Homo sapiens: one gene and its partners. The protein of the gene in region 3 purifies or fractionates together with the protein of the main gene of each other region. This does not show direct contact. Each region holds a gene or a part of one and is shown on either strand. Other genes may lie near its edges.

Region 1 (3,500 bases), on a different chromosome or scaffold from region 3:
TATTTATTAATATATTTATTTATTTTTGAGATGGAGTTTTTCTCTTGTTGCCCAGGCTGGAGTGCAATGGCGCAATCTGGCTCACTACAACCTTCGCTTGCCAGGTTCAAGCGATTCTCCTGCCTCAGCCTCCCTAGTAGCTGGGATTACAGGTGCCCACCACCACATCCGGCTAATTTTTTGTAGTTTTAGTAGAGACGGGGTTTCACCAGGTTGGCCAGGCTGGTCTCAAACTCCTGACCTCAGGTGATCCACCTGCCTTGGCTTCCCAAAGTGCTGGGATTACAGGTGTGAGCCACCGCGCCCGGCTGAGAATACCTGTATTTCTAGGCAATGGATGCTGTAGTATTTAGAGCTCCATGTCTCCCACCTAATTTGAAATGGTTCCTTTCTTTTTTTTTTTTTTGAGACAGGGTCTTACTCTGTCCCCCGAGTGCAGTGGAACTATCTTGGCTCACTGCAAAGCAAAATAAAAAGCTAGAAAAGTTTTCTGGGGAGGGAGCTACAGTTTTCTATCACATTCTTAAAGAGGTCTGTAGTAACCATCAAAAATGGTTAAATCACTGATACAGAGATCATGGTGCTTGACACCTTGTAGAAGCTCAATACACATTTACTGAACAAGTGAATGGATTCAGGGGAATTGCAGACAATGTTAGTTGTATAGAACCATTTGTTTTTGAGAGTCTGCCATAACCAGATAAATGAAACACAGTACCACTTCTATGACCAATCCCTTCCCTTGCTTATACAGACTCCTTCTGAGGAAACTGAGGCTCAGCAGGGTTAAGCAACTTGCCCAAGAGCACATGGCTAGGAAGCAGTGTCTGGTGCCAAGGCCTCTGCTCAATCCACTACACTCTCTTCCCTACCCAGGCACACTGTAAAATGGGGTCTAATACCAGCTCCTTTGTTAGGAAGCTCAGATGAGGTCATCTACATGGAAGGGCTTTGTAAGCGGAGTAATGCTGACAAAAGAAAGGGGGCATATATTCTGCTGATACTGACCAAAAGCACCCTAGCCTTAGCTATGACAAACTTTCACATATGGGGTGAGCAATAAAGTGTCCCTGTTGGACAGTAGTTTTCCTTCTTAGTGATAGAGGATCTCAAGATTTCAGAATTAGGAGAAATGAGGTTGAGTATGAGAGATGTGAGCAGACCAGAATAACCGCTCCCCTTCCCCATACACAATTCTGTCAGGTCCAATGCAAAATTCACCCTCTCCAAAAACTCTTCCCCAACTTACCGCACCCTGCTATGGTTCTGCCCTTTTATGCCGTCAGTATATTCTCTGTGATCTCAACAGGTTTCCACAATAAGAGGTAAAACCATTACCCTTCTCTCCATTCCTGACTCCTGGGCAGACAGAAACCAAAATCAGAGCCAAAAAAAAAAAACCTCAGAGATGACCCACTCCACCCCCACTCCCTTTACTCAGATGAGAATTCTGAACCTGAAGAAGTCACTTCATGAACTCCCTTGCACCAGAGGTCACACATCCCTGCTGGGGGTGAGGGGGTATTTTTCTGTCTCTTCAATAAACCAGAAGCGGCCGGGCGCGGTGGCTTCTGCCTGTAATCCTAGCACTCTGGGAGGCAGAGGCGGGTGGATCACCTGAGATCGGGAGTTTGAGACCAGCCTGACCAACAAGGAGAAACCCCATCTCTACTAACAATACAAAATTAGCCAGGTGTGGTGGCGCATGCCTATAATCCCAGCTACTGGGCAGGCTGAGGCAGGAGAATCGCTTGAACCCAGGAGGCGGAGGTTGCAGTGAGCTGAGATCACGCCAATTGCACTCCAGCCTGGGCAACAAGAGCAAAACTCCATCTCAAAAAATAAAAATGAAAAAATAAACCAGAAGCTAGCTGCAATTCTATAGAACCAGGAAGATGCAACAAACAAGCCCTGCAATGTCCTGGTACCCTCCTCACAGGCAGAACTGCAGACACTCCCTACCTTTCTCTAAGAGGTTCCCTTTTCCCTGAAATCCACCCCTCCCCTATAAGTCTCTGGATCTCATAAATACCTAATCTGCATATGTCAACAGACTGGTCAAGGTGACACCATGTAATTTCAAGATGTGGATGCATGCACGATTATTGGCTCCAAGAATAATCACTATGAGCTACAAAAACTAGCTGAAAGCCGGGCACGGGGGCTTGTGCCTGTAATTCCAGCACTGTGGGAGGCTAAGGCAGGAGGACTGCCTGAGCCCAGGAGTTTGAGACCAGCCTGGGTAATATAGTGAGACATTGTCTCCAAAAAAAGAAATTAGCTGAATTAGCTGGGTGCGATGGCACATGCCTATAGTTCCAGCTACTTAGGAAGTTGAGGCAGGAGGATCTCCCGAGCCCGGGAAGTTGAGGCTGCAGACAGCCATGACTGCGCCACTGCACTCCAGCCTGGGTGAAACTCTGGCCTGCCTCCGGCTCCTAGATGCCACCCAGAGAGGTGCCCTGGTAGACAGTGAATCCCAAATGTGGACTCTGGGGCCCAAGAAAGTAAATGGAGAGGCCTGGGTTTTCATCCTGGCCTCCAGGGTACCAGTTCAGGCCTCTCTTGAGTATCCCAAGCTGCTTCTCAAGCATATGTCTGGACCTCCAAACAAGAGCAAAGCACCTGTAATCCCAAAGCACTTAGCCTAGAGCTCCATTCCCTGTGGGTACTCCATTTAAGGGCTCCTGGGTCCCAGATTAATCCCCATATTTTAATCTGAGATAAGCAAACTCTCCATGGGGTAAACTTCCGTGAGACACCTCTAACAAACCTGGAGAGGCCAGAATTCGGGGCAAAAAGCAAGTGATCTGGATGTGCATACTAGGAGTGACTGCACCCCTACTGGCCAGGCCAAAGGCCTGGATCCCAGGCTGTCCCAGGAGATCCCAGTGACTGTGGATGATGCGTTCTTGTGGTCACACTTGGCTTACTTTCCCCACGGAGCCGAGCATCAGTGGTGCTCTGAAGCACAGTGCAGGCCACAAAAACTACCAGGGCTCTGAACGCTAGAAATCCCCACAGGGCTCAAAGAGGGGCAGGAGGTAGCAGCCAGCTGGGAGGTGGATGAGACAAGGCGTTAAATTGCCCTGGTCTTGTGGCTGACCCACAGGGGAAAATTGAGGGTTCTTCATATTTGTGCCAGAATATCTGTCTAATGTTGAATCATGAACCAAGCTCTCTTGTCTAAAATATTCCTAAGTGTCACTTGGTGCTTTGCACCAAATATAGGAAGGAATCCTTTATCATCTTGTGGAATGGTTCAAACCTTGACTACACATCAGATTTGTAGTCTTCAAACTGGTGAGTCTTCAAAACATACCTAGACCAACTGACTTAGGATCTCCAGAGGTGGCCCAGGCTCTGGTATTAAAAAACAAACTTCCCAGGAGATTCTAAAGTCTATCCAGGACTGTGAATCACTAGAACCCCTTATTTACAGAGGAGGACAGTGAGTGCCAGAGCCTCGGACTCATTTGCCCAGCAGCAGAGCTGGCTGG
Region 2 (3,976 bases), on a different chromosome or scaffold from region 3:
CACTCCAGCCTGGGTGACAGAGTGAGACTCCTTCTCAAACAAAACAAAACAAAACAAAAACCAAAACAACAACAACAACAAAAAACACTGAAAGAGAGGCAATGGTAGTCATAAGCTGTAAGCAAATGTTTTCTTCATGAACACATGGGCTCTGCTGGAACAAGGTTCCAAAACAATCCAGCCCATCGTTCAACATCTGCAAGGAATATTATGAACCAGAGGAACTTGAGGGAGACATTTACTTAGAAGCTCACAGCTCACCATTTTATCAGATGACATAAGGAAAGAAAATAGAATAGGCTACTTGAACCAAATTTTGATGTTAGCGTAAAGAAGAAAGGTCCTGGGGCCGGGCGTGGTGGCTCACACCTTAAATCCCAGCACTTTGGGAGGCCGAGGTGGGTGGATCACCTGAGGTTGGGAGTTTGAGACCAGCCTGACAAACATGGAGAAACCCCATCTCCACTAGAAATACAAAATTAGCTTGGCGCAGTGGCACATGCCTGTAATCCCGGCTACTGGGGAGGCTGAGGCAGGAGATCACTTGAACCCAGGAGGCGGAGGTTGTGGTGAGCCAAGATCGCGCCATTGCACTCCAGCCTGGGCAATAAGAGCAAAACTCCATCTCAAAACAAACAAACAAAATAGGTCCTTGATATCTTTATAAAGTACACATTGAAACAACCTAAAATTGGCCAGGCACGGTGGCTCACACCTGTAATCCCAGCACTTTCTGAGGCTGAGGTGGGCGGATCACCTGAGGTCAGGAGTTCAAGACCAGCCTGGCCAACATGGTGAAACCCCGTCTCCATTAGAAATACAAAAATTAGCCAGGCGTGGTGGCAGGCGCCTGTAATCCCAGCTACTTGGGGGCTGAGGCAGGAGAAGAGCTTGAACCCAAAAGACGGAGGTTGCAGTGAGCCGAGATCGTGCCATCACACTCCAGCCTGGGGGTAGAAGGGAGACTTTGTCTCAAAAAAAAGTAAGAAAGAAAAAAAGAAACAACCTAAAATCATTTATCAGGTACTAGTAAATGCTTCCAATATATGATACAGACTAGAAAGCATGCAGTCTTCTATGTAAACTGAACACAACAAATTTCATAGAGAAACTTTTAAAATGGTTAAAAATATATACATCTAAAAATGTATATATCTAATAAAATGTAGGGTCAAAGAAGAAAATTTTGAACTCATATCATAGTTGGAAAACAATGATGTGAGCTCATAAGATTCTACCAAAGCTTATTTGAAAAGTAGTTATCTTACTTTTTTCAGACGGAGTCTCGCTCTGTCACCCCAGGCTGGAGTGCAGTGGCATGATCTCAGCTCACTGCAACCTCCCCCTCCCTGTCCAAGGGATTCTGCTGCCTCAGCCTCCTGAGTAGCTGGGATTACAGGCGCCCGACATCACACCTGGCTAATTTCTGTATTTTATTCGACACGAGATTTCGCCATGTTGACTAGGCTGGTCTCGAACTCCTGACCTCAGGTGATCTGCCCGCCTTGGCCTCCCAAAGTGCTGGGATTACAGGCATGAGCCATTGCACACGGCCTTTATTTTTATTTATTTATTTTTTAATTAAGAAACAAGGCGGGCATGGTGGCTCATGCCTGTAATTCCAGCATTTTGGGAGGGCGATACAGCTGGATCGCTTGAGCCCTGGAGTTGGAGACCAGCCTGAGCAACAAGGCAAAAGCCCGTCTCTACCAAGTACACAAAAATTAGCGCGGTGTGGTGGCGCGCGGCTGTGGTCCCAGCTACTCTGCAGGCTGAGGTGACAGGATCGCTTGAGCATAGGATGTTGATGATGCAGTGAGCTGTGATCCTGTCACCGCTCTCCCGCCTGGGCAACAGAGTGAGACCCCATCTCCAATAAAAAAGAATAAAAAAGAAATACCTGGGTCCTGGGTCTGGGGGCAGCGAATCTAAGGCCAATTAAGGCAAACTTTCTAAAACTAGACAAAAAGGAAAAACCCCATCTCCCCATCCGGAGTAACAAAGGATCAAAGGCCGCTGTCCCTACCGCCCTCCTCCTTCCACCACGTCTCAGAAAGGGAAAGAGCCCAGGAGTGGCCATGGCCAAGCACCGGCCACACCTTCATCTGCATAGGGCACCCATCTGCTCCGGCCTCGGGCCAATTCACCTCAGCATTTCGTTGGCCAAGGGCCAAAAATCCTTCATCCAGATAAGGGGTAGCCCATAGGGACCTCAAAATAAATACTTTAACCCCCTAAAACTTTCTAAACGGGTCCCCGGAGACGCTGGCTCGGGCCCACTCCCCTCTGTGGAGTGCTTTCTTGATTGCATATATTCGTTTTCCAGGAGTTGGAACTAGGTAGCAACACCGCACAAGGAGGGAGGTGGGGAGCGACGGAGCCTTCGGACAGGGGTGGCGTCTGCAGGATCTTAGGACCAGGCAGAGGACGCGGCCTCCCGGGAACCGGGGTTGAGGCGCGGCGCTCCTGAAGCCGCCGAGAGCGACGGTGGGAGGCGCCTAGGGCTGGAATCCAGCTCGCGGGTGAGGACTTGAAACAGCGCGAGGCGGGAGGACAGGTCAGGAAGGGTTTTGAGAAGGAAAATTCCGCGATAGGAGGTGTCTGCACGACCCCACTGCAGAAAGACCGAGGACGGGACCTGCCTCAGGGCCACTTTAAACTCGAAGGGACTCACGGACTCTCACCCGGACGTCTCAATTTGCTCTGGGTTGAGAAAGAGGGGCCGCAATTTCCAGGTCTGTGGGGACTCAACGTCCCCGGTATAGCAGCACCACAGGACTGGGAAGCACACATAAAACAGAGCGAAACTCACGCGCTGTGGTGTGACCTTCAGTCCCTGCCATCCGCTTCCGGGTCTATGCCAATCAGCGCAGGACAGAGGCCAGGCCTGGGCGGGACCCCCGAGAAGGTAGGCGGGGCCTGGACTAGGCCGGGATGAGACGCGAAGAGGTGGGCGGGGCCTGAACAAGGCCGGGGCGGGGTTGAGAAACAAGGGGCCTGGCTGGGAGAAGAGTCCTGGGCTATGAGGGGTCGGCGGGGGCGAGAAGCGGGTGGGTCCTGAGCTTTCCTCCATCTCGCTCTCTGCGCCTTTTTTCCAGGTTTTGGAGGCGAAAGCCGCCAGTGAGGCTGGAGCAGCTCAGCAGTCATTGAAATAGTACCTCCCTGAGAAGTCAACGTGAGGCGGTCATTGGACCCAGGAAAGTTCCTTGCTATTGAAATTAATTTTAGCAATTTATGTCCAAAATCTGGAAGTTGTCAAGGGAAGGAATGCAAACTAGAATGCGAAATACAAAGCTCTGCCTCAGCGAAACCTCCAATTTCCTGCTGACGGCCCACAGAACAGAATAGCAAATCCTCTCCCTTTCTATTTTCCATTCACTGGGGTGGGAGAATCCACCCTGTGCTCAGCTCCAGAGACTTCCTCAGGGCCACCGCCTGGGGTGCGGAGCGGAGGCCTCAGGCCAGGGAGGAGTGAGGTCACCACCTCCTGCTTAAACACAGCAGGGATGTGGGCGAGGTGGCGAGTCTGGGGTCCCGGCTACTCAGGAAGCAGGAGCCGCAAGACCGCTGAGCCCGGAGGTCCAGGCCAGCGTGGGCGACAAAGTAAGACCCTCTACCCCAGAGCTCCTTCCTCCGCCTCAATAAGAAAAAAAGGGATTTTTAAAAAAAGCATTGACATTGTAACAGTGTGTAGCAGGGCTAGCGGCAGACAAAACTTCTCAGACACTGAGTTGTAGAAGGAAGGGCTTTATTCAGCTGGGAGCGTCAGCAATCTACTGCCTTGAAATCCGAGCTCCCTGAATGCACAATTTCTGTCCTTTTTAAGGGTTCACAACACTAAAGATTTCACATGAAAGGGTCGTGATTGATTTGAGCGAGCAGGCGGTACGTGACAGGGGATGCATGCACCGGTGGTCAGAGAGAAACAGAACAGAGCGGGGAGTTTTACAATGTTCTTCTATACAATGTCTGGAAT
Region 3 (3,500 bases):
CATCAGGTCACCGGCCCAGCCCCTCAGTGTGCTGGTGAGCAGGACAATCAGAAAAGGCCTCTCTTCCTGGAATAACTAACAGTCTCTCACCATCCCCACTCCCACTGCCCGATGTGTCATGGGAAGTCTCTGAAATTCAGGTTTGGGAAATCAGTTGACATGAACTACAGCATAATATTAGATGTCTGATTAAAATCATCAAGATGATACAAAGGTCTAATCGCAGAGGTGCTCTCCACTCCCAACCCCCACATCAAATGGAGCTTTCTCTCCTTCAAATCAGACTTCTTTTTTTTTTTTTGAGAGAGAGAAGTTCTCACTCTGTCACCCAGGGGAGGGCAGTGACACCCTCACAACTCACTGCAGCCTCAACCTCCTGGGCTTAAGCGATCCTCCCACCTCAGCCTCCCAAGTAGCTAGGACCACACCCGTGAGCCACCACATCTGGCTAATTTTTCTATTTTTTTGTAGAGGTGAGGTCTCCCTGTGTTGCCCAGGCTGATCTCAAACTCCTGGGCTTAAGCGATCCTCCCTCCTCAGCCTCACAAAGTGCTGGGATTACAGCATGAACCACCGTGCCCAGCCTTCAAATCACATTTCTAAGGAGCCTAACAAGCAGCAGGCCTTTCCAGTTACAGCGCATGGAAGTAACAAAGGCAGCCTCAGCCAGCATCCAGCGCAGTCCCAGCAGACAGGGATAATGAAGCGGACGTGGGCCTCACGGGAGGGAATACTGTCCCCCACCTCCACACCATGCTAGTGAGAAAAACAGACTGCCTGCAGCTCCAAAACATACAGCAACTTACCTATCAAACAGGGACCTCTGACGCTTCACATTATCACGTAAGAAATGTTTCTTGCCCAGCAGCCCCCAGAGGATGAACAGCTCCCTCCACCTGAAAGGGGAAGAGGGCCCAAGCTGCAGGCGCCCTGGCCTATCGAGGCCGTGGACAGGAGGCACCCGAATGTCTCCCCAGACCCCACCCTGCTGCAGAGGCCTCTGCAGCCCATCACCCTGCAGCGCTGCTGTTCCCGCTGCTTCTTGGAGAACAGGGGCAATTTAATCTACAAATCCTGTAAATCCTTGTTAAAAAAAAAAAAAAAAAAAAAGAAGGGTAAAATAAAACGTCTGCACTAGCAAGGCTGGGACTTGGCATCAGCTGCCACCTCCTACAGAACCCAGTGGGGAGTGGGCTCCAGAGCCTCCCCGTGATGCTGGCAGTGCCTCGGCCAGACACCTGCCCCCGCCACCCTCCTGCGTCCTCACTGCACCCCTCCCCACCCCATGTCACATCTTCTGCTCATACCTCCCCACACCCTCCTCTCGCCTCTGGATGCACCTCTCAACACGCCCCTGACCGCGTCTTCCTCCCATGCTCTGAACTGTCCACTAGGGAAGCCAGCTGCAGAAATCACTCTCCTAGAATTCACTTGGTAAAATATGTGTTGTTATTGGCCCACCTACTTTGCTCCCAACCCACAGCAAGGGCTCTCCAGGGCTACCAAGCCCCTAATGGTCAGGAACTGCCCCCCAACCCCCATCTCCAGCTCTGACCTACACAAACTACATAATCCTGCTGCCAAAAACTTGGCCCTCCCTATGCCCAGGGTGCCACACTCCAGGCTGGCCCTTCTGCCGAGAGGGCTCTTCTGGCCTGGGCTCTGAACGGGCAAACCCACCCACTCTTCTAGGATGGGGTCCATGATCCACCCCAACCTACCGTGGGGCTCTCACATCTTCCAGACTGTGCCTCTCTAGGAGGGCCTTGGACCCAGAGCCAGAATGGGGCTCTGATGCCACTGCACATTCTCCAGCAACCCCTTCCATGCCCTTCCTCCTGATCCCACCCAGCTCTAAACTGGGAACAAGAAAGCTGGAATATAGTAGCTTCTCAGAAAATACCTACTGAGTACACGGCTGGATAGATGGACAGTGCTCCAGGCAAAGGGACTCGGGGGTAAGAAAAGTGAAGGGTACCTGCTCCCGGTTGTACCACTGCAGAGTCCTTGAGTGTCAAAGGACTGAGAGGTGAATGACGGGCAAGGTGAGACCTACCAGGTTAGTGTCCCGCACCCCTTTGTTTCCACTATTAGATTAAGCCACCCTATGTGACAGATAAAAGGAGCAACACATACAAGGAGTTAGGCCGGGGTTGCCAAAGTGAGGAGTGGGAATGCTGCCAGTCCAGGGGTCCCCCACGGCAGCTCCCCAAATGAAACCAAGACAAGTTGGAGATGAGGCTGCCTCTAGGTGTATCAAATCAACTGAAGTAGCACCAGTCCTCAGTGCTGATTAAGCACAGGCACGCCTGTGATCAAGAAGAAAACCATTACTTAATAAAATGCAGTTAATTTAGAAGCTGAAATCTGTGAAAGCTCAAGGGAAAGACACAATCAGGAGTTCTTGGTCTGGAGGGGCTTCTGCTCTCAAAGCTTCCAACCCAACACAGCACAAAGACGTCTTCCCCAACAACCGCACATCCCACCTGCAAAACGATGACACGCTCCTCTCCAGGTACCTGAACCTTAGGACTCAAAGGGTAGAGAAAGTTCACAGGCAGAATCTTCACAATACATGCACAAAACAAAGGCACTTCTAGTAGGAGCTGTGGGTCAGGAAAATCTCGACTTCACCCAATGCCATTCCCGAGACAATCAGCCATCAATCTGACCCACTCAGTCCTGCCTCAGGGGCTCAGAATCTAGCAGTCAGGCCAGGTGGGAAGTGCAGGGACCTGTGGCCAAAATCGGCCCACTCATCACTCAGCTGACAGCTTTCACGCGTACTAGCCAGAATCAGTTAGAGGCTGGAGGTAGTGCCAGGTGTCTGAAACCCAGCAGGCAGGTTGGTAAAACACTCACACATCCTAACCCTGGTGACTGCACTGACTGCGTGCTTTACTGTAGCAGAACAGTTGCACACATCTCATCTCCTCCATCCATAGTAACTCAGTGGCTGGTGAGGAATGGGACACAGACCTCCACGTGCCCTTCTCGGGATGAGTCAAGACAAACTCTGAGCAGTGACGCTCTACAGCTGGCTCACACGTGGAGGCAGAGCCTGGCTTCCCAGAGCTTCCAGTTCCTAACACACGCCTGGCCCCACTGCACCACACCCGTGACAGCTGCCACCAGCTCCGGATAATTCAGACAGATGCTAGAGCACATGGCTCACTTATTACACCAAAAGACTGAGAAACAGAAACTGTGTTTTAATTGTACAATGCACACACTTGCTTCCAGAGAGACCTGAGAAATCCATCATCCCTAAATGCATGCGGTTACTCAACTAGTGGCTTTACTATTTTTGAAACAATGGATTTTTCCAAGACAGTTGATAATCAAACCAACTGCGGGAAACCATAAACGATACTTGTTTATTAAATTAAGAACAGATACAACAGTTCAGAGGAATTCATATTTAGAGCTGCCTTGCTGGAGAATCAATTCCAGGAATGCCAAACCAACCAAATGAAAAAAAATTATATATATATATATAT
Region 4 (3,500 bases), on a different chromosome or scaffold from region 3:
AGTTGTGACAACTGTTTCCAAGGAAAAGTTCAGTGTGCAAAGAGGAAGTATTAGTAGAGATCTTCCTTGATTGGGGAGTTAGGGGAAGTTCCTTATGGAAGTGACATTTAAGCTGGGAGTTAATAGAGGAGCAGGTTCATTTGCTGAAGTGTCTTCTAACCAGAAGGGATGCTTTGAAGGCCCTAGGGTGGGAAGGAGCTTGGCTCTTTGAAGGAGGGTGGGGTGCGGGCAAGGAGGGACTGCAGGAAATCTGTCGGGTGAGGCCAGATCATTCAGGGCCTTGTGGGTGGGTTAAGACTCCCATCTTTATCCTAAAGGTAGGGAGGCTGCAGAAAGATTTTAATCTTGAGAATTAGCTAATTGGAAATATATTTGCAAAAGATCATGTTTATCTTTTCTGCCAAACTGCATTTCCTGAAGGCAGGGGCCATGTCTGCCTTTTTCATAATGTATCCTTATTATCTAGCATTGTGTCTGCCTTTCAAGAACTGTTTATTGAAGGAATAAATGAGTGAATGAATGAATGGATAAATTAATGAATAAATACATAATTACTGTTGGCATTTTGGCATACATTCCATACACTGTATACACACACACAAACACACACACACACACAGTATGGCATGCTTTATATCCCATTGTATAACCCATCATTTTCATTTAAGTGTATATAATACTTTTTTCATGACCTTAAAATTAGCATTTTTATAACATTGAAATTATTTGTATAGAAGAAGGTTTAATGACTATATGATTTTCCACTGTATAGATATATCATCATTTAGTTAAACGGTTACTAATTGTGGGGCAAAAACATTGTTTCCAATTATATTTTATAATGTTAAGTGACTATATACAATAGCATATTTTATAACCATTTATATTTAATGATTAGAAATATGTAACTCGTATCCTTGTCTCTGAAAGTTTGACTTTATCCTTAATTATTTCCCAGTGTAGAAATAGAAAGGGAGGGCAGGCCACATGATCTTCAAGAAACACTGTCTTCCCATCAAATGGGAGAACGTATTTCTATCTCATAAGGGACTTGTATCTAGGATATATAAGTGACTCTTGTAGTCAATGATAAAAAGTCAAATAACCCAACTGAACAATGAGCAAAAGACCTGAAAGATATTTCTCTACAGAAGATTCACAGATAGCAGAGAAGGCATTGGAAAGATGCTCAATGTCATTAGCCGTCAGGGTCATGCAAATGAAACACCCAGTAGGTGGGCTGTAGTCAAAAAGCCAGATAATAGCAAGTGTTGATGAGGATGTGGAGAAATTGGAAACCTTATGCACGGCTGCAGGGAATGTAAAATGGTACAGCCACTTTGAGAAGCAGTTTGGTGGCTCCTCGAAAGGTTAGACCTGGAGTCACCATATGACCCAGCAGTTGTATTCCTAGGTATATACCCAGGAGAAATGAAAACATATGTCCATACAGAAACTTGTATGTGAATGTTCAGGACAGCTTTATTCATAGTAGCCAAATGTGAATGCAATGCAAATGTCCATCATGGTGAATCGAGAAACAAATATGATATGTCCATGCAGTGGAGTATTATTTGGCAATAAAAATGAATTTAATAGTGGCCGGGCGCGGTGGCTCATACCTGTAATCCCAGCATTTTGGGAGGCCAAGATGGGCGGATTGGCTGAGGTCAGGACTTCGAGACCAGCCTGGACAACGTGGTGAAACCCTGTCTCTACTAAAAATACAAAAATTAGCTGGGCATAGTGGTGGGCGGCTGTAATCCCAGCTACTTGGGAAGCTGGGGCAGGAGAATCGCTTGAACCCGGGAAGCGGAGGTTGCAGTAAGCTGAGATCGTGCCACTGCACTCCAGCCTGGGTGACAAGAGCGAAACTCCATCTCAAAACAAAACAAAAGAAAAAAAAGAATTTAATATTGATTTATGCTACAACATGATGAACTTTGAAAACACATTGAGAAGTCAGTCAAAAAAACTACCATATTGTACAATTTGTTTTATATGAAATGTCCACAATAGGCAAATCTATAGAGACAGAAAAGTAGATCAGTGGGTGCCAGGAATGGAGGGTGTTGAGAAGAAATGGGGAGTGATTGCTAATGAGTACAGGGTTTCTTTTTGGGGTGATGAAAATAATCTAAAATTGACTGTGGTGATTTCAGAGCTCTCAGTATGCTAAAAACCATGGACTTATCCCCTTAGAAAAAGTAAACAAAGAGTTATGAAAAAGAAAAAAAAAGACGTTTTAATTTCTATCACTGAGTGTGCACATGTTTTTAAAAAGTTTTTATTACTATAAACCAACCAACAAAATGTTTGACCACTTAATATTTATCCTTTTCTGATAAATAACAATAGCTAATATTGCTGGGTGCTTATGTGCCTGGCACTCTCTAAGAGTTTATATAGACATAGAAACCTATCTTATGTTTATGTATAAATGTTCATATATACATATCTTATTTAATACCCTCATCAGACAGATGAGGCAGATGCCATTACCACTCTCATTTTTCTGATGAGGAAACTGAGGCAGAGAGGTTAAGTAACTGGCTCCAGATCATGGAGCTGATAGAGGCAGAGCCAAGATGCAAACCCAGGCTTCTTGTTGCAGAAACCCTGCTCCTAACCCAACGTTGTGCTACTTGTGAATTGGCAGAGTCCTGTGCTCATGGAAGACGCTAGGGAACACACTGTGTTATGGAGTGCTCTCCACGGGTCAGCACTGTGTTCAGCCAGGACTATCCCACGTCCCTGTCTGTAGCTGATTGAACAATGATAGCTGTCACTTTGTTGCTTTCTTGGCATTTTTGCTAGAGGTGACACATGCTCCCTCTGAAGCTTGGGTCACCTCCTCGCAGAGGGTTGCTGTCCAGGCCTAACAGGGAAAGCAGGGACTTGAATCAAAGCTTCTAATGTTGGGCCACCTAGAACCAGGCCCAAGAGAGGGGACTTGTTTACAGGGAAAGTTAAGTCTTGTTATAAAGTGCAGAAGATGAAACTGGATGATACTTACACAGATGATTCCTTGTCACAAAATACCTGAAGACCTGGTACAATGGAGATGTCCCCTCTCTCCTCTCTAGGACCCTCTTCAAATTGTGGTGGCTTCTTATTCTATGCCAGTGGGACATTCTCCAGCCCATCCTACCCTGCATACTACCCCAACAATGCTAAGTGTGTTTGGGAAATAGAAGTGAATTCTGGTTATCGCATAAACCTGGGCTTCAGTAATCTGAAGTAAGTAATGCCTGGTCATCTGGTGAGGGGTGAGTTCCTCTGCAGCACACCCACTGGTTTAGACTGTGTCCTGGGCTGGGATGCTTTTCACTCTCATGTGCCATGGACAAGCTTTTGGTGGCTTTGATTCCTACCATAAAGCATCAGGGAACACTGATGTCCTTTGACTTAATTGAGGAAGAGCTAGAAGAAAAACCTGTATTCAATGGCATCCCTCGTAAAGTGCAAACTATTTATAAAATGGAGGGGCAATAGGAATT
Region 5 (3,500 bases), on a different chromosome or scaffold from region 3:
GTTCATATACTTTAAGTTGTAATTTTATATGATGAATGTATTATATAGTCAAACAGAGATAATAGAATTATTCTCAGTATAATACTACTTATTCCCAGTATAATCCTTTAAAATGGCAATGGTATAATGAGTAGAACAGTTAAGGTACCATTTAGCTGCAAACAGGAGAAAATATTATTGAAGATGCTTAAACCAATAGGGGTTTATTGTTTCATACAATAGGTCTGAGGCTAGGCAGAACAGGGCTGTATGGCAACTTAGACATGTCATCAGTCTCTACATTTTTCCACATTCCCTATCTATAGGTCTTTATCTCAAGCCTGTTGTCTCAGGGTCACGAGATGGCTACTGCACCTCCATACCTCAAGTCCCCTTTCCAGGCAGGAAGAATGAAGGGGCAAAAACAGCCACAGCCAAGGCTTGCTCCCAGTAAGGCTTTTTTCATTTGGGGTAGAAAGATTTTCCAAAGATACTGCACCTACATGTCAATGGTCAGTCCTACGGCACATGGCTGCCTTTAATAGCTACAAAGGTATCTGGGATGGTGACTATTATAGTTCCCCAGCCTCTATTACATAATAAAAGGTAAAAGGGGGTTTTAAATGAAATTGGGGTAGCCAAAACAGAATGTCTGCCACGTATATTAATTCTGTGTATATTGTCTAATCCTAGAAAAGCACATTAGACCTAGTGAACACTCAAGGGAATGAATAAAATGTTATTAAAGTTCTATAAAATTCTACCTACATCAATAAATCTTTCTTGACCATTATAAAAGAAAAGAGATATGGACTACAGCTAAGACTCTAGAGTGAATTTCTGTTTCTGCCCATTAGTATGGTATTAGAACATCCATTCTGCCAGTTTCTTTGCCTTTTCCTAATCTGTTTTATCATCGAGCCTGTCCCAGAACCATCCACAATTTACAAATCTCCTCTTTGATACATTGCCCCAACTCCTTCAAGATGATTTTCATGTAGATCTCTTTTTCCAAATCCTCTCTGGCCCCCAGTCTCCATGCACCAATCCACTGTATTCCATAACCACAGAAGAGCTTTCAACTTTCCCCCCAAATTGTTAAACAAGTGAATGAAACATATCAAGAAAAAAAAACACACATCTTAAAAAGATGTTCCCAAATGTTTCATTAACACATGCAACTATCTTAGTTCATCACTCTTCTAAGAAGTTTTGTAGACAAAAACACAAATATAGCAGGTGCTGCAATACATGCTGAAGCAGCAGCAAAAAAAAAAAGACAAGCTCATTTATTTCAACAACAGGAGATAAACATCAATACACCCTCTTTTCAATCCTTTAATATATCTGGAATTCATGCTACTATATGGTACAGGCTGAAGATTTACATTTACTTTTAGATAAACTGTTAATTATTTCAGGATAGTTAATTCAGGAATCATTCTTTCCCCACTGATATGAAATGCTACCTCTACCATATACTGAATTCACAGGTAAGCTTCTGGGCTCTTCAGTATTATGTTTGTTTTTACATTAGGACCACACTATCACAATTATTAATAATACATTTATATGATATATTATAATTTAATATTTATTCTCAACAACATAGTATACAAGACAGACTTTAGAATCATTGCAGCAAGTGCCAAAAAGAAAAAAGAAAAAGAAACCTTTAGGAATTTGACTCATATAATATTATATTATTTATCAATTAATTTGGAAGACATTGGCATCTTATAATATTGTATTCCTTCCGATCTTGAATATTTACTCAATACTTCTGTCAAATACAACTAATAACTGATACAAAGGGGTATAATACATATCCTATTTGCTTAATTTTCCTTGAAATTTCACATGAAAAATATATATAAAATCACTTGGAAAAGAATAAACTGTGGTATGGTGTTACAGTTATGTAGGAGTAAAAGAAAAGCTTCCGTTGACCACAGTATTCACATATCATCAGTAACAATTCACCCACAGAATTCATGTACTTGAACTGGCAGTTTCACACGTCCCTATTGGTCATAATAAAGTCAGTCCTTTAAATAATCACTCAAATTTACTGGAAACAAATAACATCCTAAAACCATACCACATCGTAACATACTATTTCCTTTAATTTTTAATTAATAAATCCTGACATGATTATTTTGATAACCTGGAAAATTTACCAGCCATATCAAATCAAAATTACTATAAATGATATAACTTCACCTGTGAAAAAAATGTAATTTCTCAACCTGAATAAATTTACGAGACTCTGAAGTGATTTCCAATCATATTGTTTGACATACTTAGGTTTTAACTGAGTTTTTTTTAAAAAATGGGAGTGAGGCCCAAGTTAGAAATATTGTTCCTTATAATTTTTTAAAGTGCTTCCTACTTTCCTAAAATTTCCAATAGTCATTTTTGCATGCTATAAAAGAATGTGCAGGCTAAACCTACTTAGCTTTGTGTTATCTATCACTCAGGGAGAGTATGATGCTCCTAAATGTCAAACAGAGTGAAGGAAATAAAAAGATTTAAGTGACAGAAAAATTATAACTCATAAGAAGATATATCTAAGTTTTGGTGGGGTGTTTAGTGACTAGTAAGAGGAGCCCCTTGTAGAAGAATTTCAGTAACGCAAGCATACTAGGTAAGAAAGAATCAGATTTCCGCACTATGGAAAACAATGTTTCCTCTTTTAGTCAAATGAACAATGTATCAAGCATCACATCAACAGACTTTTAAAATGAAATAATTATGACTATGCTCATCTCTGATCTCAGGAAAAAAATTAGTCTAGATACATATAAAATATAAATTTCATATACATTTAAAATGATACTCTAAATAGCTGACATTTCTCTTAAACAATAATTTTAAAGACATATTTATGCAATAAATTTAGCATCTCACCTGTCCAGCAACAGCACTGAAGTAAGTATACACGGAGTCACCAGCTGAGGAATAAGTGTCTGAATATGCTGGCCCAGAGTATCCATCGAGGAGTATAGCTGGGCCTGTTTCTGGCACTGGCTGTCCCATCTGCATTCCTGGCACCTGAATGCTAAAATTTCCAAACTATAATAGTGAAAGGGGAGAAGGTTAGTAATATAAATACTACCTATTATCTATGAAAGTTGGATTAAAAGAAATTATTAGAAGTCCGTCAAAAAGTAAACAGTTACCAAAAGCTTATAATCTTATCACAAAAATTTTAACTACAAAATGTTAGATGTCCTACATTAAGACATAATTCAATTCATCAACATATATTACCCAGCATTAAAAGAAGTATAAAAGAAAAAAGAAAGTTACTAGCCTCTAAGAACTTAATCTAAGAGGAACATGTACAATTTTAAAAAATGTTTACCAACATCACTGAAGTAAACAAAAAGTAAAACAATGCAAGATTTTACCTAAAGTAAAACTAAGAAGTAAACCTCAAGACACATACTTAGAAGAATATATGTGTAAATACAATGAAACTTTAAGTGTCAACATTTACAATATGTTGGGTATTGTAT
Region 6 (4,162 bases), on a different chromosome or scaffold from region 3:
GTTTACACAGCTTGCCCAAAATCACACAGTAAATGGCAGGGCTGATTCAAACCCAGTCCCAACTTCTAACCTCAGACTCCTCTTTAGCAGTAAATTGCCTTCTTTTGAGGAATTTACTTTCGGACTTTGAGGCAATGTCTCCCGCTTCCTCCCTCCATCTATAAATCTCACCTTTTTCTTCAAGCATCTGGGTCAAATCTTCTATTAGGGTCACCACTTCCTCACTACTCTCAGGATGTTGTGACTTTACCCAAATCCTGATCTCCCCAGGCAAAATGGTCAGGAACTGCTCAAACACCAGAAGCTCTAAAATCTGTTCTTTCGTGTGAATGTCTGGTCTCAGCCACTGATTGCAGAGCTCCCAGAGTTGACTCAGAGCTTTCCTGGGTCCAGCTACTTCTGAGTAACAAAACCACCTAAACCTCTGTCTGAAAGACTCTGCATCAGCAGCATTTCCTCTTAAAATAGCTTCTTGTTCCCCAGAAGTAACCACTCTTGGGACCTCATTTTGTTCAGTCGAGGCCAGAGTTTGAGGTTCTGGTGAGATGGCTGTCATCTTGTTCAAGGGCACTACAGCTTGCATTGTGTCTCAGGGGCAGGAATCCAGTCCCTTCACACTCTAGTTGAGTATCAGTACAGTCCACCAACAGGCACTATACACAGCCAGGAATATCAAAGGTTCCAGGAATCCAGTTTACAGTCCTGCAGAAACTGTCAAGAAGAAATATTAAGGCATTAAATAAGTAAAAAAACTGTTGTTAGTCCTAAAAACATCGTTCTTGGTTTGGTTCAGAGAAATATATCCACACACATACCAGCAAAGGCCTAGAAAAGCCCTGCTCAATTAAAAGGATAACTTTCTTTCTTTTTTTTTTTGAGACGGAGTTTCGCTCTTGGTGCCCAGGCTGGAGTGAAGTGGTGCGATCTCGGCTCACTGCAACCTCTGCCCCGGCTGGGTTCAAGTGATTCTCCTACCTCAGCCTCTTGAGTAGCTGGGATTATAGGCGCCCACCACCATGCCTGGCTAATTTTTGTATTTTTAGTAGAGACGGGGTTTCGCCATGTTGGCCAGGCTAGTCTTGAACTCCTGACTTCAGGCGATCCACCCACCTCAGCCTCCCAAAGTGTCAGGATTACAGGCGTGAGCCACTGTGCCCAGCCATAATTTTCTTTATAGTCAAAAACCAGGGAGCTACTTAAGGGTTAAGGAAACAGTTGCTTTAGATTGAATACTCCTCCTAAACAAAATGTTATCAGAAAAGGTTCACAAGGGGACCCAGTCACAAAGCTATTTAACAACTCCTACCCTTTCTTAATGAAAGGGCACACATTTCTCACTAGTTGCTCAACTCAGAAGCCCAATTTAATATTTGACTTTCAAATTTCTCTTCCTCCTTACTTCTCCCATCAATCGCCAAGTTCTGGCGATTTTATTTCCTAAGAACCTCTCCATTCTATCCTTCTGAAACTGCCTAAGTACAGGGTTCTTCACTCCAGTCTCACACTGTGGCCAAAAAATTCCTTCTAACATGCAAAATATGATCTTATCACTCCCCGGCTTACAGTCCCTCACCAGCCACCGAACTGTCTCTCGATAAAGTTCACATGCAGGGACCATGGCATTGTGATCTAGAGACACTGTCTGATGACCTCACCTCTTGAGCTCTAGCTACCCGATTGACACTACAGCCATAAATTAGTATCTCCTCTCTCTCTACATACTCTCCTAGCCTTTGCACCAAGGCTATTCCCTCTCCTCGGAATGTTGCTTTCTTTCTCCTACCAAACTTTTATTCGTCTTTAAAGCCTGACTCCTTTCAACTGTCACTTCTGGTGTGATGCTCTGCTTGATCCCAAAGCACTCCTTTGCACACAGACTGCCCTGTGTTGCATTCATTCATTCATTCTATAAGTGACGGAGCAACTACAATGAGCTGGAACGAGACCAGGGGCCATGAGCTGCGGGGCCAGGCGTGGACAGGCCTGAAAGGGTCCTCACGCTCACAGAGGGTCCAGGAAATGACAATACAGCCGGAGCGGGACTACAATGCGACAAGTGAAGGATGTGACAGCCTCGCATTGCAACTACCATACCAATAACAACCCACTTCCGAGTACAGCGCCCGGCACACAGCAGCATGACGTCATTTATTCCTCTGCCAAATATTAGGCGCCCACCACGTACCTGGCGCCGTGCTGAGCACCTGGGGCTCCGCGATGACTAAGACACTCGGCTCCGTCTACAGGGAGTTTACATAGGAGGCCCGGTGAAAATGTGACGCAGCCAGAGGATCTCAACCAGAGGGAAGAAAAAAGGAGAGATTTCACCCCCCAGCGGTCCTCTGGCAATGTCTGGACACATTTTTGGTTAGCTCGACTAGGACGAGAGGTGGTACTGTTATCTAACGGGCAGAACCAGTGACGCTGTTAAACATCCTGCCACAACGGGAGAGCCTCCCCCTCACCGCCACACCACAAACAAAACAAGGCATTATCCCGCCCAAAATGTCAACAGTGCCCAAGTGGCGCAGGGAGGGATGGAGGGAAGCCAACAGCCCCATCCCGCAGCGGAGTGCGCACCTCCCACAGAAGCAGCAGCAGCGCAGCGCACAGCCCGTTGGTAGGCTGCTCCCGGCCCCCATCCCGCCCCAAGTGCGCCCTCGGAGCCGGCGACCCGGCCACGGCCCCGAAACTCGGGGCCCGGGACGACCAGTACCTGCATCAGCATCCGCAAACAGCACCAACGCCACCGCAAAGAGCTTCCAGAAGCTTGTCCCGCAGCGAGTGCGCGCGCAAGCCTGCGGGAACCACTGCGCCTGCGCAGAGGCGCTGAACCGGACTCCCCGAACGCGCTCGTGCAGCTTTCCGAAAGTCCGCGCTTTCCATAGGCTCCCACCTGCCTGTTGCGCATGGTCACTGGGAAGCGGCTAGTGGGCTCGGCTGCAGAATTATTGCTGCGCCAGAGGCTCAGAGGCCTAGAATCGTATGAGGTTTGCAGATCCAGGAGGCTCCATCTGTTTAGTAACCTCAGACCTTCCCTACCCGCTCCCATCACTTCCATTCCCTGAAATCTAAGGTGGAAAAATCCACCGCAGAAGCATATTACCGATGCATTTAATGCAAGCCATAATTAATGCCACAACTTGAGTTAAACACATATTAATCTTATGACTTCCACACCTGCCCCCATGGTCCAGTCCACCCTCATGGCTCACCTGGATTATTGCAATAGCTTCTTGATTATACCTTACTTCTCTTGGCTATTCTCCACAGCCAGACGGACGTTTTAAAAACGTCAAATTATGACCCTCCTTTGCTTAAAACCCTGCAATGGTTTCCCATTTCACTCAGAGTTAAAACCCAAGTCTTTATAGTGGCCTACAAGGCCTGATGGAATCTAGCCCCTGTAACCTCCCGCACCTCTTCCCCACTTTCCTGCTCCAATCTTGATAGACCCCTTCCTCTTCTTGTAACCTGCCAGGTACTTCCGGCTGACCTGCTCCTTCCCTAAGTGGCCATACGGCCCGCTCTCTCATCCCTTCAGGTCTTCTCAATGAAGCTCTCCCACCATTCCACTTAAATAGGAATCCCACCTTACTCTTGTTTCCTCTTCTAACATGCCCTATAGGTTTGTTAATTTTTTTTTTTACTACTTGTCCGCCTTCTCCAGTAGAATACTAATTTCAGAAGAGTAAGTATTTTTATTTCATTTGTTCTAGGTTGTGTGTTTAGGTCCTGGAACAGGACTTGGCCCATGGCAGGCACTCAATAGATATTTGTTGAGCTTATGAATGAGTATTTGCATGGATTATTGGGGGCATTGCAAAAAGGGCCAAAGAACTCCAGAAAAATTGTTTGGAGGGTTCTAATAACTGGATGATCCCTGAAGGGGTGGAGTTAGGAGAGAAAGACTAGATTCATTCTAGACTGAAGGAGCAAGGTGATTCAAGGCCCTGAGACTTCAAAAGGGCAGAGCAAGCTCAACTAAATGAACCACTCCTCTCAAAAGGAGTGGGCTTATCACAGGCAGCAAGTCAAGCTGAAGAGACAGGGCTGAGAATGGCCGGGCGCGGTGGCTCATGCTTGTAATCCCAGCACTTTGGGAGGCTGAGGCGGGTGGATCACCTGAGGTCGGGAGTTTGAGACCAGCCTGACCCACGCG

The links.
Region 1: the proteins of GOLGA8A (region 3) and TRIM26 purify together in Homo sapiens (affinity purification with mass spectrometry; one large-scale study listed by BioGRID and IntAct). This does not show direct contact.
Region 2: the proteins of GOLGA8A (region 3) and ZNF320 purify together in Homo sapiens (affinity purification with mass spectrometry; one large-scale study listed by BioGRID and IntAct). This does not show direct contact.
Region 4: the proteins of GOLGA8A (region 3) and DMBT1 purify together in Homo sapiens (affinity purification with mass spectrometry; one large-scale study listed by BioGRID and IntAct). This does not show direct contact.
Region 5: the proteins of GOLGA8A (region 3) and GCA purify together in Homo sapiens (affinity purification with mass spectrometry; one large-scale study listed by BioGRID and IntAct). This does not show direct contact.
Region 6: the proteins of GOLGA8A (region 3) and ZNF483 purify together in Homo sapiens (affinity purification with mass spectrometry; one large-scale study listed by BioGRID and IntAct). This does not show direct contact.

What each region holds. Positions count from the first base shown.
Region 1 is NC_000006.12:30,203,407-30,206,906, forward strand, and holds part of TRIM26 (tripartite motif-containing protein 26), read right to left. Parts: intron 1,360-3,500; 5' UTR 1,250-1,359; intron 1-1,249.
Region 2 is NC_000019.10:52,894,836-52,898,811, forward strand, and holds the start of ZNF320 (zinc finger protein 320), read right to left. Parts: upstream 2,801-3,976; 5' UTR 2,685-2,800; exon of another isoform or gene 2,643-2,684; intron 601-2,642; exon of another isoform or gene 1-600.
Region 3 is NC_000015.10:34,427,809-34,431,308, forward strand, and holds part of GOLGA8A (golgin subfamily A member 8A), read right to left. Parts: intron 1-3,500. UniProt on the Homo sapiens protein: May be involved in maintaining Golgi structure.
Region 4 is NC_000010.11:122,626,754-122,630,253, forward strand, and holds part of DMBT1 (scavenger receptor cysteine-rich domain-containing protein DMBT1 isoform e precursor), read left to right. Parts: intron 1-3,086; coding exon 3,087-3,240; intron 3,241-3,500.
Region 5 is NC_000002.12:162,347,132-162,350,631, reverse strand, and holds part of GCA (grancalcin), read right to left. Parts: intron 3,055-3,500; coding exon 2,890-3,054; intron 1-2,889. UniProt on the Homo sapiens protein: Calcium-binding protein that may play a role in the adhesion of neutrophils to fibronectin. May play a role in the formation of focal adhesions.
Region 6 is NC_000009.12:111,523,817-111,527,978, reverse strand, and holds the start of ZNF483 (zinc finger protein 483), read right to left. Parts: upstream 2,801-4,162; 5' UTR 2,717-2,800; intron 2,403-2,716; exon of another isoform or gene 2,186-2,402; intron 2,162-2,185; exon of another isoform or gene 816-2,161; intron 712-815; 5' UTR 584-711; coding exon 172-583; intron 1-171. UniProt on the Homo sapiens protein: May be involved in transcriptional regulation.